Regions from separate parts of the Homo sapiens genome. Here region 1 is linked to region 2. Evidence: fine-mapped expression QTL. Tissue or cell type: whole blood. Region 2 holds a variant in brackets; the other region holds the start of a gene. All regions are shown on one strand. Distances are from middle to middle.

Evidence for each region. PIP is the estimated chance that this variant, and not a neighbour inherited with it, causes the effect.
Region 1: MOCS2 starts here. The variant in region 2 is fine-mapped to the expression of MOCS2 in whole blood (INTERVAL, PIP 0.91).

What each region holds. Positions count from the first base shown.
Region 1 is chr5:53,105,796-53,113,968 of GRCh38, reverse strand. MOCS2 (molybdenum cofactor synthesis 2) reads left to right here and starts at 4,212. Exons shown (of 7, transcript NM_004531.5): 1 at 4,212-4,718; 2 at 5,326-5,447; 3 at 6,748-6,892. The coding sequence starts at 6,795. It overlaps MOCS2-DT (MOCS2 divergent transcript), which reads right to left and starts at 4,127. Exons shown (of 2, transcript NR_104654.1): 1 at 3,821-4,127; 2 at 1-110. RefSeq lists a silencer at 4,184-4,473.
Region 2 is chr5:53,247,754-53,255,954 of GRCh38, reverse strand. No RefSeq gene overlaps it. Among named protein-coding and RNA genes, the nearest start is that of MOCS2-DT, 140 kb to the right of the region's middle. The variant AAAC/C (reference allele first, on the strand shown) is at 4,784.

The DNA of each region.
Region 1 (8,173 bases), 140 kb after region 2:
TGAGGAGTTGTGGGCAGCAGGCTGAGTAAACACCTCTGACGTGGGTCCCATGAAGGGGTCAGGGAAATATCCTGCTTCGGTCGTCCTTCAAAAAGTAACTACTGCATTATCTATTTTTTAATAAGAAATTTAAATATTAAAATATGTTAATGACATTAGTCCAATGTCTACGGATCTCACACCACATAGTCCAAACTTCCTCAGACAGAAATATTTTCACTGTTCAAAAATTCTGCCACACTGGGAAATAAAGGAGTAGACATGGGCTGACATTTGAAAATCTATTACCTGTATTTTTTTTGGTAATAGAATATGATTATAAATCTCAACTTTATTACTGACTTAAACAAGGTCACTAAAGCATTTCACGAAGAGTTCCTGATAATGGGTAACCAGATATCTAGGACTAGATACTATTTAGCAGCTGAAAATGATGGCAGAAAATATATGGGCAGCAATAGAAAAAGAATGTGACTAAACATTTTTAGCAATTTGATATAAAATATTTAGATTTTAAAAAATCTGTATAAATGGATGAATAGGTTGGATTTTACGGAAAAAAATAGGCTCAGTTCAATTAGAGACTGAACTGTAACATGATAAATCAGAATCAATGATGACAAGTTTTATATACTATTTTAATAGCACAGAAAACAAAACCAAAAAAACCTATTACCTATTGGCGAAACGACTGATGGAACATCTAATAACTTTTAAATCAAGTTAAGCCTAAAGCTGCCTCCTTACAAATTTTAAGTTTGGCCTAAAGGTTTCTCAACACACAGTGAATTGTAACCTAACTGCATGTGTAAACAGGCTGTAACCTACTCTTATACCAATCACTGTGTTGCAGCCCATCAAAGGCAGCCAACTGTTCGAACCTTGTTCAAGTAAGGTAAACACCAAGCTGTAACCAATCCAGCTGTTTCTGTACCTCATTTTCTTTTCCTGTAATTTATTTGCTTTTTTTGTCCATAATTCTTTGATCATGTGGCAGCACTGGAGTCTCTTTGAACCTGTTCTGGTTGGGAGAGGGGCACATTTCACAAATTGTTCTTTGCTCATTTTAATTTGTCCAAAGTTTTTCTTTTGACACAATGAACTCTGATTCTGCCAGGTGTTTCTGGGAAAATTGTTTTTCAGAAAAGGCAATGAACATTTTTGATAATTTGCTACTACACGTGTGTCTGGAATTGGTTCCTTCCGGTGGGTTCTTAGTCTGACTTCAAGAATGAAGCCTCAGACCTTCGTGGTGAGTGTTACAGCTCTTCAAGGTGGCATGGACCCAAAAAGTAAGCAACCCTAAGATTTATTGTGAAAAGTGAAATAACAAAGCTTCCACAGCATGGAAGGTGATCCGAGTGGGTTGCCACTGCTGGCTAGGGGCGCCAGCTGTTATTCCCTTATTTGTCCCTGCCCACGTCCTGCTGATTGGTCCATTTTACAGGGTACTGATTGGTCCATTTTACAGAGTGCTGATTGGTGCATTTACAATCCTTTAGCTAGACACAGAGCGCTGACTGGTGTGTTTTTACAGAGTGCTGATTGGTGCACTTATAATCCTTTAGCTAGACAGAAAAGTTCTCCAAGTCCCCACTCGACCCAGGAAGTCCAGCTGGCTTCACCTCTCACAAGCAACGTTATGTTTCTCATCTTCTAACAGAGCGTTCTGTGAAGGTCTGAGATGCTCCTACATTTCTAGTCTCATGGAATCTCGTCTTTTTTCAATCTGAAAACAAAATGGAAATGTTTTTGCCTCAACTTGTTTTTTTTCTTAACCAAATAGGATTCCTTATGGTAAAAATAACTGGGAAAATGGTGGCTCCAACTATGTTTTCACAAAAAATTGTAGCTTAAGTGAAATGCAAATGTTCATAAAGTCATTTTGCTATTACTAAAATAATTTATATACCATTGTGATGATTCACTGATTTAATTAATGAATTCATAAGAAAAGTAAAATCAAAGCCTATGGAATAAGCCTGGAATATTTTGGTATCAGTTTTGCTTGCATATCCACAAATTATAGATGGGGCTGTATTTTGTAAAAAAAAAAAGAACTGTGTCATATCTACAGCATAATGAATAAACGATGTGAACAGAAACTTCACAGAGAAGTATAAGTGCTCAATGAAAATATGAAAAGATTCACCTCATTAGGAATTAGAAAATAAAAAAATGAAAGCAAGGCAATATTATTGACCTATATTTACTTGAATTTATCAACAAAATAACTGGTGAAACTGATAGGATTATAAATCATCAGATTATTGTTTATTTGTAAAAGATAGTTGCTCCTAAAATATTTTCTAAAATAAAGAAGATTATGAAAAATATTAAGAAACCTGAATTGATATTTTGTAACTATATGTTCCCACTTTGGACAGTTTCCATTTTTTTTTAATATTCTGATGTCATTTACATTTTATTTTATAATCATATCCCATAATTGATATCTTAGTTTTACGTTTGAATGGGTTAAAATCTCAATGCCAGTTTTTTTAGTTTTTCATTTTTCCCATATTAATACCTTTATTGCTGAGTTATTTACTTTGATTACTCTTGATTGAGTGGACTTTTTGCCCAAGAAAGATTTTTAAGAAGGGTTCTTGGGTATTGTGTTTTTTGAGTTTTTGCTGATTTAGGAGAATCCTGCCCCACCAGTTTGGCTGTAATATTATGGGATCATGCTTTTGTTCTCAGCCTTTTTTACACACTGCACATTGCCATCAGATGCCACTGAGGAGTCTAAGGCCACTATTGTCATTCCCTTGTTTTTATGCCTGGGTGTGAATATAGTCTTTATCCTTTATGTTTAGCAACTTTACCAGGATACACATTGGTATTCATTGCTCCTTGTCAATTTTTCCTACCAAGGACTCTCCAGCCTCACTTCTCATCACCTCCTTTGCTGGAGGCACACCTGCCTTGCCAACTACTTGCCCTTCTGTGAACTTATTATGCTTCTTCATATCCCTGTGGCTTGTCAGAGGCAAGTGAAATTTCTTCGTGCTCTACTCCCACTCTTGTCATTTACTGCCACCATTCTAGCAGATTTACCTTCTCAGCATCTTCTCACTCCCCAGGTGACACAACCACTTTCCCCTTCCACCCTTGAAATGTAACACAGATCCTTAGTATTACAGGGAATTATCATTCATATTTAAAACTCTCCTACCCAGGACTGTGAGCTCCAAGGAAAGGGACGTGTAACTTACATCCACTTAACGACGCAAGCAATTTAAAGCCAAGAGTTCTTGTTGGCAAGAATTGGGAAAGTTGGACGGACAGTATACAATTACCGAGCAGCCAATAAACAGGAAAAGTCATACAGTTCGAATGTTCTGACCAGGCGGATATTCTGTCTTTAAGAAACACTAATCATATACCTGGGAAAGAAAAAAATCTTGGGCCCCTTCAAACTGGGAATTACTCAGGGCAAATCTGCCTCCTATTCTATCCAAGTCACCTCTTTTGCTGACAAAGAATAGATGCATATTCTGATTGCCTCCTTTAGAAAGACTTATCAGAAACTCAAAAGAATGCTACTGTCTATTACCTACCTGGAAGCCCCCAGTTGGGGGGGGCGGGGCTTGCTTTTAACGGTCTCCGCCTTTCTGGAAGGAACTAATGTACTTTTTACATATTGATTGATGTCTCCTGTCTCCCCAAAATGTATAAAACCAAGCTGTGCCCTGACCACCTTGGGCACATGTCCTCAGGACTTCCTGAGGCTGTGTCACGGGCATGTCCTCAACGTTGGCAAAATAAACTTTCTAAGTTAACTGAGACCTGTCTCAAATTTTCGAGGTTCACATACCGTAGGTAAAAGTGTCAGAAGCCTAAAGGTGAGCCAGTGGAAAAGCCTGAAGACCCCTGCAAGGTTATTAGCTAAGCCTCCATAACGCAGGCGGCAAGTGTCCAGGAGTCTGGCGTCTGCTCGCCTGCACCACGACCTCCCTCCTGGGGAGAAGGACATGCATGGTAAGCCATTTCTCCATTTCCATACTGATTGCTTCCTCTCACCACCACGGCCCATCTGCGAAGCAAAACTAATCCTGGCGTGGAACAGGCCGCCTGAGGGAAACAGCTAGAGCCCGGCGCGGGGCGGAGCTGGTTGTGCGCATGCTCCGTGCAGGCGCAGGCGGGGGCTGAGCGCCGTCGGGTTACGCCTGCGCTCCGGGTGAGCCCGCGCCTGCGCCTTTGCGGCCGTGATTCGGTCCCGCTGTCCTAGGCGGGATGGTGCCGCTGTGCCAGGTAAGGGTGGCGGGTGTGCGTGCGGGCCTGGGTGCGGAGCCCTCCTCGACGTGTCTCTCCCGCCCTTTCCCTCCACATACCCAGCCTTGGTCAGTCGGACCTCCCCACTAGCCCCCAACCTGGCCGGCGTCTTGGGTTCGGGGGCGCCCCCGCCCCCGCCCCCGGGCCCTTCCTGTCTCCGGGCTTTACTGCGACTGCCCCAGCAGAAGTCGGGTCCTCTCCGAGAACTCTTGTCAGCTCACGGCAGCAAGGACGGACTCGTTCTGAAGGCGCCTCCACCTTTTATGACCACCTCTTTCCCAGATTATTCGTTTTGATGAAGCTAAAATTTTAATCTAAAAAGAAATGCACCTCATGGAGAATTCTTGTGAAGAACTGTGCTTCATCTGTGGATTTCTACACCCTTGATCATTTGCAAACCTGTAATTATTTCGTAAAGAGTTGTTTGCACGGAGTGACAGGTGCCTATTTTACTTCGTCGGATCCCTTACATACCAGGCTGCTGGCACAAGTTTGTTCTAGCAAATTCCAGTCTGTCGTGTGTTTCAAACCTACTTGCTTCTGTAAATGTCAGATTTACTATGTTGCATAACTTAATCCTTAGCGTCTGGGGACGATGTTATACAGACCGGAATCTAAGGTCATTTGACAACCGTGAGAAACAGGTTTTTCGCTTATTTATTCATTTATTTTATTTGTGTAACTCATCTCTTGACTCAAACATTTGTTCTTTGCTTACATATTTATAAAAGGTGCTATACTTTTATGTCAATTAAGGCAGGCTTAACATGTTTTCCTAGAAGATAAATACTTAGGATTTTAATGATGGCACACTTAAGTTTGTAAAACTAAAAGGCATCCAGAAATTAGTCTGAATTGTATTTAAAACAACAAGTTTTCAGAATTTGAACTTGTAGGTATACTGAAATTTTTTACGGGTTATTTAATTTTCTTTATAAAATTTGTCTTTGATTAAAGCAATACATTTGGAAAATGAGAAAACTGCTCAACATTGACAGTCAGAAAACGAGTATGAGTTGTTATTAAAAGCATTTTCTTTACTTTCAGGTTGAAGTATTGTATTTTGCAAAAAGTGCTGAAATAACAGGAGTTCGTTCAGAGACCATTTCTGTGCCTCAAGAAATAAAAGCGTTGCAGCTGTGGAAGGAGATAGAAACTCGACATCCTGGGTAGTTAAAAATTTGTAGAATGCATATGAGTAACACTTAGATATTTTCAAAATACATAAATGATAAAAGTAAAAAGGTTAATTTCGATTTCCGTGCTTAATGTCAAAAAGAATCGTTAGTTGTATTTTTTTTGGAACACCTGAAAAACTCTAAATGTGCACCGTATTTTAAGAAAGGTTAAAGATATTTTACCCCAAAACACAGTGAACCGCAGAGGGACATGATTATATTCTCTTTGATAATTTACAAAACACTGCACATGTCACTTCTGCAATTTTATAACATTAAATGAAATTGTTACAAATTCTGTTAAAAATGTGTGCTTTAAACATTTTGTTCTGCCCCTCTCTTTAGAGAGCTCAACATAGAAATTTCTAAGATTGAAAGAAAAATGAGTTACAACAAATCCTAGATGCTGCTGAATTTGAGTTTTTGTAATATTTAATTTTTTTTCTGGTTCTTGAAAAACCTATAATTTTACTTATGTCATTCCCACTTCAAGTTCTTTTTGGAACAAAATATAAAAGTGACTTATTTGAGGGTGATTCAGGAATATTAATGGTGTTACTTAGCTTGTATAGGTGTTTAACCTGGAAGTCCTAGTTCTGTGTAAAAGATACTCCATAATAAGTGTTTAAAAGCAAACCACTTCATGATTTCGTATCTTTTAAGTTGCTCTTACAGTGGCCTGATAATCAATAAAACACAGTGGGGTCTCCCATTCTGCTTTACCTGGAGGGAGACAGCAGGTCTTGTATACGTTTTCACTGTGCCTGAAAAGAAAGCTTACCATTGTTCAGGTATAAAGGAACAGCTAATAAAGCTGTGTTGCAGGTGGCTTTATGACCTATGCTATCTTTTTCATCTTTCTAAGCAACTTAATCCATATTCGAGTAGGATAATGTGTACAGGCATAGTTTGTGGGCAGTTATACTTGTGCTTGAACACATGGATAGAAGGACCCTGGAAAGGCCATGTACTGATTGGAAACTTTTCTTTTGACCTGGTTTGAGTGTTGCCTCCAGTCTGGTGGGTTTTTTGTGCATTTTTTTGTTGTTTAATTCCCCAAGGCATACAACATCCAATAAAGAGTTGACAGCAGTTTAACGTATCTTTGTGGTGTATAAGTATGTTCTTCAGTGGATATGTCCTTTCTCCATATACTATGTGTAAATTTAATTGGTAATTTTGCAGGTGATGCTTTATATAATTATATCTATGTAATATCTCTAATTGCAGCTGAAGCGATTTGAGGTCTATCATAGCGTTGATACTTTGAGTCATATTTTTTCCCCTTTAGATTGGCTGATGTTAGAAATCAGATAATATTTGCTGTTCGTCAAGAATATGTCGAGCTTGGAGATCAGCTCCTCGTGCTTCAGCCTGGAGACGAAATTGCCGTTATCCCCCCCATTAGTGGAGGATAGTGCTTTTGAGCCATCTAGGTATGTGAGATTTGTTTTTCTTAATCAGTCGTGTGGGGAAGGATCATACAGATGATAAAGTGTATGTGGTTTGCTGTTAATGTATATTCTTTGTAAGTCTGTCTGTACCAAATCTTTATTGATGCAGCAACTCTTCATTGGTGCCAACAGATTTATGAATATCTAGCACCATTTCTGCATCAAGTCTATTGTAAGCAGTTTAATTACAATAAACATATCAGTTTGATATGTTTCATTTAACATGGTTTATTGAGATCTTATGTGTCAGGCACAGTGACATATTAATATCCATATTTTGCAGGTAAAAAAACAAATTCAGAAGACTTAAAAAACTTGCCTTTGATCACATAGCTAATCACATAGCTAATAAGTGAAAGAGCCAAATTAAAAAGAATTTATTTAACTTTTAAGTTCAGGGGAACTTGTATCATGGCGGTTTCTTGTACAGATAATTTTGTCACCCAGGTATTAAGTCTAGTGCCCATCAGTTATTTTTTCAATCTTCTCCCTCCTCCCACCCTCCACCCTCAAGTAGGCTCCAGTGTCTATGGTTTCCTTCTTTGTGTCCATGTGTACTCAATATTTATCTCCCACTTGTAAGTGAGAACGTTTGGTATTTGGTTTTCTGTTCCCGCATTAGTTGGCTAAGGATAATGGCCTCTAGCTCCATCCATGTCCCTGCAAAGGACTTGATCTCGTTCTTTCTTATGGCTGCATAGTATTCCATGGTGTATATGTACCACATTTTCTTTATCCAGTCTACCACTGATGGGCATTTAGGTTGATTCCATGTCTTTGCTATTGTGAATAGTGCTGCAGTGAACAGACGTGTGCATGTGTCTTTATGACAGAACGATTATATTTCTCTGGGTATATATTCAGTAATGGGATTGCTGGGTTGAGTGGTATTTCAGTCTCTAGGCCACCCTGTCTTCCACAATGATTGAACTAATTTACACTCCCTGCAGCAGTGTATAAGCATTCCTTTTTCTTCACGTCCTCGCCAGCATCTGTTATTTTAATAATAGCTCTTCTGACTGGTGTGAGATGGTATCTCATTGTGGTTGGGATTTGCATTTCTCTAATAATCAGTGATGTTGAGCTTTCTTTTCATATGATTGTTGGCCACATGTATGTCTTCTTTTGAAAAGTTCCTGTTCATGTCCTTTGCCTACTTTTATTGGGGTTGTTTTTTCTCATAAATTTTAAAAAATTCCTTAGAGATGCTGATGTTAGACATTTGTCAGATGCATAGTTTGCAAAATTTTTCTCCCATTCGGT
Region 2 (8,201 bases):
CTTTAACTGATTAAATTTACTGCTCATTCATCCACCAGGAATTCCAAGTAAAATGTAAAACAAGGGCACGTTCTTATTTTGCATATCAAATGAATTCTACTTTTCTCTGTAGCATATTGGAAAATTGTTTATTGGTTCAACATTCATTGACTAAGGGCCTACTCTCAGATTCTGTGTGCAACACTCTCTGGGATTACAAATATGAATAAGAAATAGATAGTTGCCCTCCAAGCAGGGCTGGCTTCATGGGCATGCAACCTGTGCAGTCACACAGAGTCCCTTGCTTAGGGGGTCTGATGCTTGGCTTAATGCTCGGATGTTACTGTCTTGAAATTCTTAGATTTTTGAACAAGGGGCCCTGTATTTTCATCTTCACCGGTCCTTGCAGATGATGCAGCTGGTCCTGCCTCAGTAACTTGTTTGAGAAAAACACATTCCATGAACAATACAATAATATGTCATACAATGTAATAATTTTTTTAAAACACAGAAAGAAAATGGCAACAAGTATATAGCAAGCACCATGTTATGAATCCCAGAGGAAGATGTATCTATCTGTGCTTGTGGGAGGTCAAATGTTTTAATTTAGGATGTGTTATTTTAGTGAGAATTTTAGTAGAAATTTATACTTTATAACTGTTTCCATCTTGCCAAGACAATGCAAAGTTGTATTAGTTTGTACTGATTAGGTTAATCCAGCAAAGCCTATAACAGGAAAAGACAGAGATTATGATTTGTTGACTAACTTGACTTCTAATTTGTCACAAACTCTTCTTACTTCCCATCACCTGTCCCATAGACCAAGCTTTTGTATTGGGTAGTGGGGAAAGAATATGATGCAAAGAAGTGTGTGTGTGTGTGTGTGTGTGTGTGTGTGTAAATGTGCACACAAGTAATTCAACTGGGGACATGCAGACATTTGTTCATTAATTGTTTTGCTTTGAGTTGTCAGTGGATTGAGTTGGTAATAAAATAAGCCTATTTTAATTGCCTCAGGTGACTGGATTATTGATGGGGAAGTGCTAGGGGTTAAAAAAAAAAGGTTGAGATTTGGTGCTGGTAGAGATCCATACTTGGCGACAGAACTTTAGGACAGGTAGGGATGAAGATAATGAGAAACTAAAAATAAAATTACTATATATGCTGTAATACAGTAATCCATATTTTGTATTCTAGTAAGTTTCTTTGGTAAGTTAACAACAATGGCCCTCTGTCTTTTCATCAAGTGGATGGATTTTTTAAAGGAAATAATAAAAATGTCAAAGTTGAGCTTTGGAATACCGAAAGTTTCCATTCTTCTCTAAGATGCTTTTTGAAGATGCAGGCATATATATCATCTTTAAAGAATGTTTTAGTGTATTACGCAGGCAATTCTCAAAAATCTTTTATCATAGGAGTTTCCTTTTCATTTTGCCCAATATCACCCAATGATCCCTTTTTAAAAGTTCAGTCTCCTTGTTCTTTATTCCTTCCAAAAAAGAAAAAAAAAAAGAAAGAAAGAAAGAAAAGGAAAGAAAAAGGGGGAAAAAAAGCAGCAAACCCAAAAGGAAGGACTTCTATGACACTTACGAAGGAAGAGTAACATTGCCTTTTATTTTGTTTTCAACTATTTTAAGAAGATCGAGTTTTCACCTTAGCTGTTGTCTACACATCTAGAATTATGTTTGATAAAATAAGGGTAGATTGGATTCTGAAAGAACGGCTAGCTGAGAAGGAAAGGCAGAGCCTTCCTTGGTAATAATTCAATATAATAAAAATGGTGAAGGAGATATTTCAAACCTAGAGACTTAGACAGGAGAAAAGAGATAAAGTCAGACACATTGAACTATTCAGTTTGCCTAACACACATTGAGGTATTCAGTTTAGGCATCATCAAATGCTAAATCAATATTTGCAGGTCCAAGTTAAGTGAGGTGTTTGCAGAGATAAAGTTTTGAGGAGAGAAATATATTGAAAAAAAATTTCTAAACATTCAACATAGATAAATCCTACAGAACATTGTTATCTAACACCAGAGCATGTCTGCAAGGGTAAATTGTTGGAAAATAAAGTAACATGAATAACTCTTACAGTTTTGCATATCAGAAAGATGACTGATTAAAGTATGTGTTTATTTGAATAGGCCAGGAGCATCTGTCTCAGTTTCATAGATAAGCGTGTGCATGTTTGTGGTTTTTTTAGAACCATAGATAAGTGTGTACATGTTTGTGGTTTTTTTAGAACCAAGATGCCCAGAGGGTGGAGCACACAGCTGTGGCTCTGCTACCTTCATCATTGTCACCATCACCGTGATAGATAAACAGGCACTGTACATTCTGGGATGCTGAGCCCCACAAGTGGGAACCTAATAATCAGCTGCCTGAATGTTTACAATTTTTTCAGATGACTGAGGTCACCCTCTCCAGCCTCAATGCCAACCAAGAAATGAACATTCTTTACCACATTCCTTATCTCCAAAATCTTCATGAGGTGGTTGTTTCTTCTCATTACTCCCTGTCTCTGCTGTGAATCTTGGCTTGTGTGACTGCTGTTCTCTCCCTTCTTCACACCAGTTTGCTTCCTTCTGGACGCTCACTGCCTTGATTATTTCAACTCTCCAAAGTGCCAATGACACAAGCCTGGGTGTGTAGCAGACTTTTACTTTGAGGATAATTGCTTTGGATTGAATGTTTCTATCTCCCCCAAACTTATATATTGAAAACCCTAATCTCCAATGTGATGGTTTTTGAAAGTGGGGCCTTTGGGAGGTAATAGGTCATGAAGGTGGGGCTCTCATGCTGGGGTTAGTAGTGTCCTTATAAGAAGAGACAGGAGAGAGCTCACTTCTTCTCTGCTTGTAAGCACCAAGGAAAGACCACTTGAAGACATAACCAGGAAAAAGGCCTTCACCAAAATCCCAACCATCTGGCACCCTAATTTGTACTTTCAGCCTCCAGAACCATGAGAAATAAGTTGTTGTTTGAGCCACCAACTCATTTGAGCCACTGTGGTAATTGGTTACAGCAGCCCAAACTGAGACAGTAATGGAGAGATTACAGGGTGTCACTGAAGAGACAAAATGCGAAATAGAATGTTAATCACCATGCTCTAACATTCATTAACAATTTTCTGTCCTCCCACATTTTTGCCATCTATATGCCCTCCTTAAGTTTTGCCTTGCCTTCATCTTCTTGTCCCTGGTCCCAGTCTACCTGCTAGACTCCAGCCCCAAAATTCTCATTAATTTTTTATGCAATGTAATTTTGCTTTCTGTACCCTACTCTTAACCAGGCATATTGTTGAGCATGTTTTAAGATAAAAGACTTTTTAATGTGGGTGACTACCATTTTACAGCAAAAAATGTTTAAGAATATTTGCTAACCTAAAACAAAACATATGCCAAAAAACTAGCAGAAGTTCTGAAATTTTATTTTTTTCTCTTAACATGATCAAAACCTTAGACAAGATTCCATATCCATTGTTAGAGCATAAGACACAGAGTATTTTTTCTTCCTCTAGAAGCAGAAATTAAACACAAATGATCCTTGTAGTCTTAATGATCACACATTCAAACAAATGTAAATTGGGTAAATAAGAAAATCTATTATATAAAAACTTGAAGCAACTGTATATGTCAGACTTTGTTCTTGAGACTTTCACATGCATTATCTCCTTAATTTTTACAGCAACCTAGTAGTTAGCTTTTAGTCATCTAGGTTTGCATATTGCTAAGGTATCAGGTGGAGTTCAGTTAGAAATATTGATTAATGGGTCACTACATTTCAGGTTTATACTTGGTTTATCAACTTAATAACCTATAGAATTGTATATACTCTGAAATGATCAGGATTTCAGCAATGGTCTCACACTACCTAAATTCACACAAGACCGATATAAAGTCATGTGCCACATGACCTTTTGGTCAATGACAGGGCACATATACGAAGGTGGTCCTACAAGATTATAATGAAGCTGAAAAATTCCTATCACCCAGTGATGTCCTAGCCATTTTTCTAATGTCGTAGTGCAATGCATTACCCACGTGTTTGTGATGATGCTGGTGTAAACAAACCTACTGTGCTGCCCGTCCTATAAAACTATAACACATACAGTAATGTACAGTACATAATACTTGATAATGATAATAACTATATTACTGGTTTATGTATTTACTAAACTATGTTTTTTTTTTTTTTTTGAGACAGAATCTGGCTCTGTCACCCAGACTGCAGTGCAGTGGCACAATCTCAGCTCACTGCAACCTCTGCCTCCCAGGTTCAAGCGATTCTCCTGCCTCAGCCTCCCGAGTAGCTGGAGTTACAGGCATAAACCACCATGCCTGGCTAATTTTTGTATTTTTAGTAGAGATGGGGTTTCACCACTTTTGGCCAGGCTGGTCTTGAAGTCCTGACCTCAGGTGATTCGCCTGCCTAGGCCTCCCAAAGTGAGGGGGTTATAGGCGGGATCCACCATGCCCAGCCTAAACTATGCTTTTGATTGTTATTTTAGAGTGTACTTTGTCTACTTATTGAAAAAAGAAAAAAAAGTGAACTGTAAAACAGCCTCAAGCAGGTCCTTCAGGAGGTATCCAGAAGAAGGCATTGTCATAGGAGATGACAGCTCCATGCGTGTTATTGCTCCTGAAGACCTTCCAGGAGTAGGTAAGATATGGAGGTGGAAGACAGGCATATTGATGACCCTGAACCTGTGTAGGCCTCAGCTAATGTATGTGCTTGTGTCTTAGTTTTTAACAAAAAAGTTTAAAAAGTTAAAAACAACAACAACAACAACAACAACAAAAAAA[AAAC/C]TAGAACAAAGCTTATAGAGTAAGGATATAAAGAAAAAATATTTTTGTACAGCTGTGCAACGTGATTTTTAAGCCAAGTATTACTACAAAAGAGTCAAAAAAATTAAAAACTAAAAAGCTTATAAAGTAAAAAAGTTATAATAAGCTAAAAACTTATTATTAAAGAAAGATTTTGGGGGGTAAATTCGAAATTTGTGTAAATACACTCTATGATGTACACACAATCACGAAATCACCTAACACATTTCTCACAATGTATCCCCTTTGTGAAGGGACAAATGAATTCAGAATGCCAACATTTTAATTCATAATATGACACATCAATTATCATCGGTGTACTTGGGAGTTATGGCCTCTCTCCTGGAATCAAGGTATTTGGGAGTCAGACTATTAATCGGAAAGTTTGAGAGTCAAACCATTAGTCACAAATAGGTAACTGGAAAATAGAAAATAGGAAGTGGTGTTTGGAGATATTCTACTTAAGTTCAGAAAGCTTTGATGAACTATTACTAACCCAGTGTCTCTTCCAAAAAGACATTTTTTCTTTAATTCAGGCCGCCCTCTTTTCCTTGAAATGCATTTTCTTAAGATCAGTTAATATTACTTATTAATATATAAATTAATATATGGGACTGAGAAAGAGTCAATTCCTTAGGCTTCCAGGGTTACCCCCAAATACTGGTTTATACACATCACAGAGGAAATGAAAGGCTCAGATTAAATGACCCAAAGAGTGTCACATAGTTAGCAGGTGCCATAGCTGAGCTCTGCCCTCAGGTTTTCTTTAAACTTAGCGCTTGTGGCTTTTACTAGTCATTGAGAGAGAGCTGCTGTTTAGAGGCTACAGCATCAAGAGCTATTCTAGGGGATAAATGAAGTCAACATGTGTGATGAAATTATTAACATGTACTTAGGACACATATCATTGCCGAATGTGTATGTGCAGTCTGTGCCCTGCTCCCACTCTTGTCAGCGGGAAAGATTGTTGTCCTTTGCATCAGTTTCTGGGCTCCCCTTTGGATCAGAGAACCTTAGTAACAGTCAAGGCAGAGGAAAAAATGAAAGAAAACCAAGTGGCTGAGTTGATTTACACAACAGCTGAGGGAGAGTGTAGAGGGGAAGGAAGAGAGCAAAAGCTTTATGGGGTTGGTGTCAGGGAGAACATATTTTGCTGCAAAGAGGAAAGTGAAGAGAAGAATAAACGACTATAGAGAAGCTTGGATGAGAGAGAATTGTAAAGTAGAAGACTAGGAGTTGAAAAATTATTGCTTTGAGTTGTGAGTTAAATTCTCTTTGCATAACACAAGCAAATAATAGAATTATTTTTCATTACTCATGGTTATTTTACAGGACTGTTTCTTTGAGTGAGACTCCTTGGCAAGGCTTGTTCATGTGGAGTCTCAGGGTTTATTTACATCCTGGCTGGAGGAAAGACACATCATTCCTCAAGACTGATTCATTTGAAGTAGAGGTCGGGCTGGCTTTATGGGGCTTGTGGCCAGCAGGACTGTGCAAGGCCCATGCTCAGAAGGACCTCATGTTTTTCTATTGCAGTCCTGAAATTCTTAATAATCTTATTCCTGAATTTGCGTTGTATAGGTGAAATATGATGGGACATGGAGTGGGGGTGGGAGAATGGGGGAGGCTTGGGCTGGACATACAGGAGGACAGGGTGGGAGGCTGGTGGCAACTGGAGGCAGCTCCGGTGGCAGCCTTTCCAGCACTGGTGAACCTCATGCATTCAGCCTATTGCCTACCCTGATCTAGGGACTGAGCGATTCTGGGTGGAAAGGTTTAAAGATTCTTGGACTCACCTGTCTGCCCTGAGCTGGGCCAGTGGGAAGGGGAGATGCCTAACTCGACTTCTCCAAGGGTGGCTGGTGGGACCTGAGATAGCACACTACATGCCCCATGTCTCTGGACTGGGTCCCCAGCCAGGGCTTTGTAGTGAGGGGTGGAAGTAGGGTGGAGGACGTCTACTCTCTCTGGCAAGTATACCTGTGGCTTGGACTGCTCCAGGGATTGGTTCTGTGTTTTGGGGAGTTCTCTCTTCTTGCTTCCAACCTTCCTGAGTTTGATATGCATTTTCCCTTTCTGGTCAGCTCAGAGGGCCTGCAGGGTTGAGCCAGTAAATATGAACTGGGAAATTTTGGAGATCTCCTACCAGTTAAATGCTCTTATATTTACATTTAAAATTGGCATGGCACAATATGAAGGTGAACGGTAAAATTTATGTTATTAACTTAAAATTTTAATTTTTCTTGACTTAGGATGGCATTAGATAGCAAATAAAAAACATGACAGAGAGGGATCACTAGAAGAAAGGAAAAAGCTTGATATTTTAGTACTTTTAATGGCAACTTTTTCCTGTTTTTTGACCAAGGCGCCTTGGGTTTTCATTTTTCACTGGGACCAACAGATTATGTAGCCAGTCTTAAGCAGGGAAATTTATAAGACATAATTGCCAGAAGTCTGGAGAGAGCTGGCTGAAATGGTTTCAGATTTAAGATGGAAATAGAGTCAATGCACCTTGCTACTGGAAATGGTAGGACTCTTTTGGATGGATAAAATGCTGCAGAGCATAGGACCCTGTCAGATTCTGTAGTAGGGCAGATATTAGCTCAAATTCTGACTTTCCACAGTTTATTAATAAAACTTAATATTTCCTGGCAAATGAACTATTCCATCAACTGTGCCATGGGGTGTTGCTTGAATATAGGAGCCATACGAGTATGCTGGTACTCACTGAATTTTCCCAACACCATTACTTCTTTTCCCACGGTTACACAGAATCACTGGCTCTAATTAGGATGGTGTTTGTGGGATTGTCTGCCGAAACTTGTGTTCCACCTTCCGTAATGTAGCATTGTCACTGAAAAGTGACAGCACAGCTAGGAACTACATCTCTCTGTCCCCTTTGCAGCTAGGTGGGATAATATAATCTGCTGTAATTGAGTAAACATAAGGTGTGCCATTTCTATGAAAGGTTTTTTACTAAGTGATTGTCCTTTTTCTTTTGTGGATCAGGTGCAGAGGAATCCAAGGTGTAGGGAATGAAAGAGCCACAAGATGTAAGAAACCTCAGTTCCTCAATGTAGACATGGAAGAAAGCTTCCGGGAGCAGGCTCACTGGATTTGGTCACATAATGATCACAGAATAAACTCTTGTGGTAAGCCTCTGAATTTGGGATGTTTTGTTAAAACAACTAGATGACCCTAACAGTTTTCACCAAGGTCAGTAATCGACTGATTTAAGTGTTTCAAAAAATCTTTAAACAAATTCAATTGTTGCTTTTAATTTTATAGATAAGGAAATCAAAGTCTTGGAAACTCAATTACTTTCTCAGATAAATGCAAACAGCTGGTAGCAGAGCCAAAGACAGATACCTGGGCTCGTGTCTTCTATTCCAGCTCA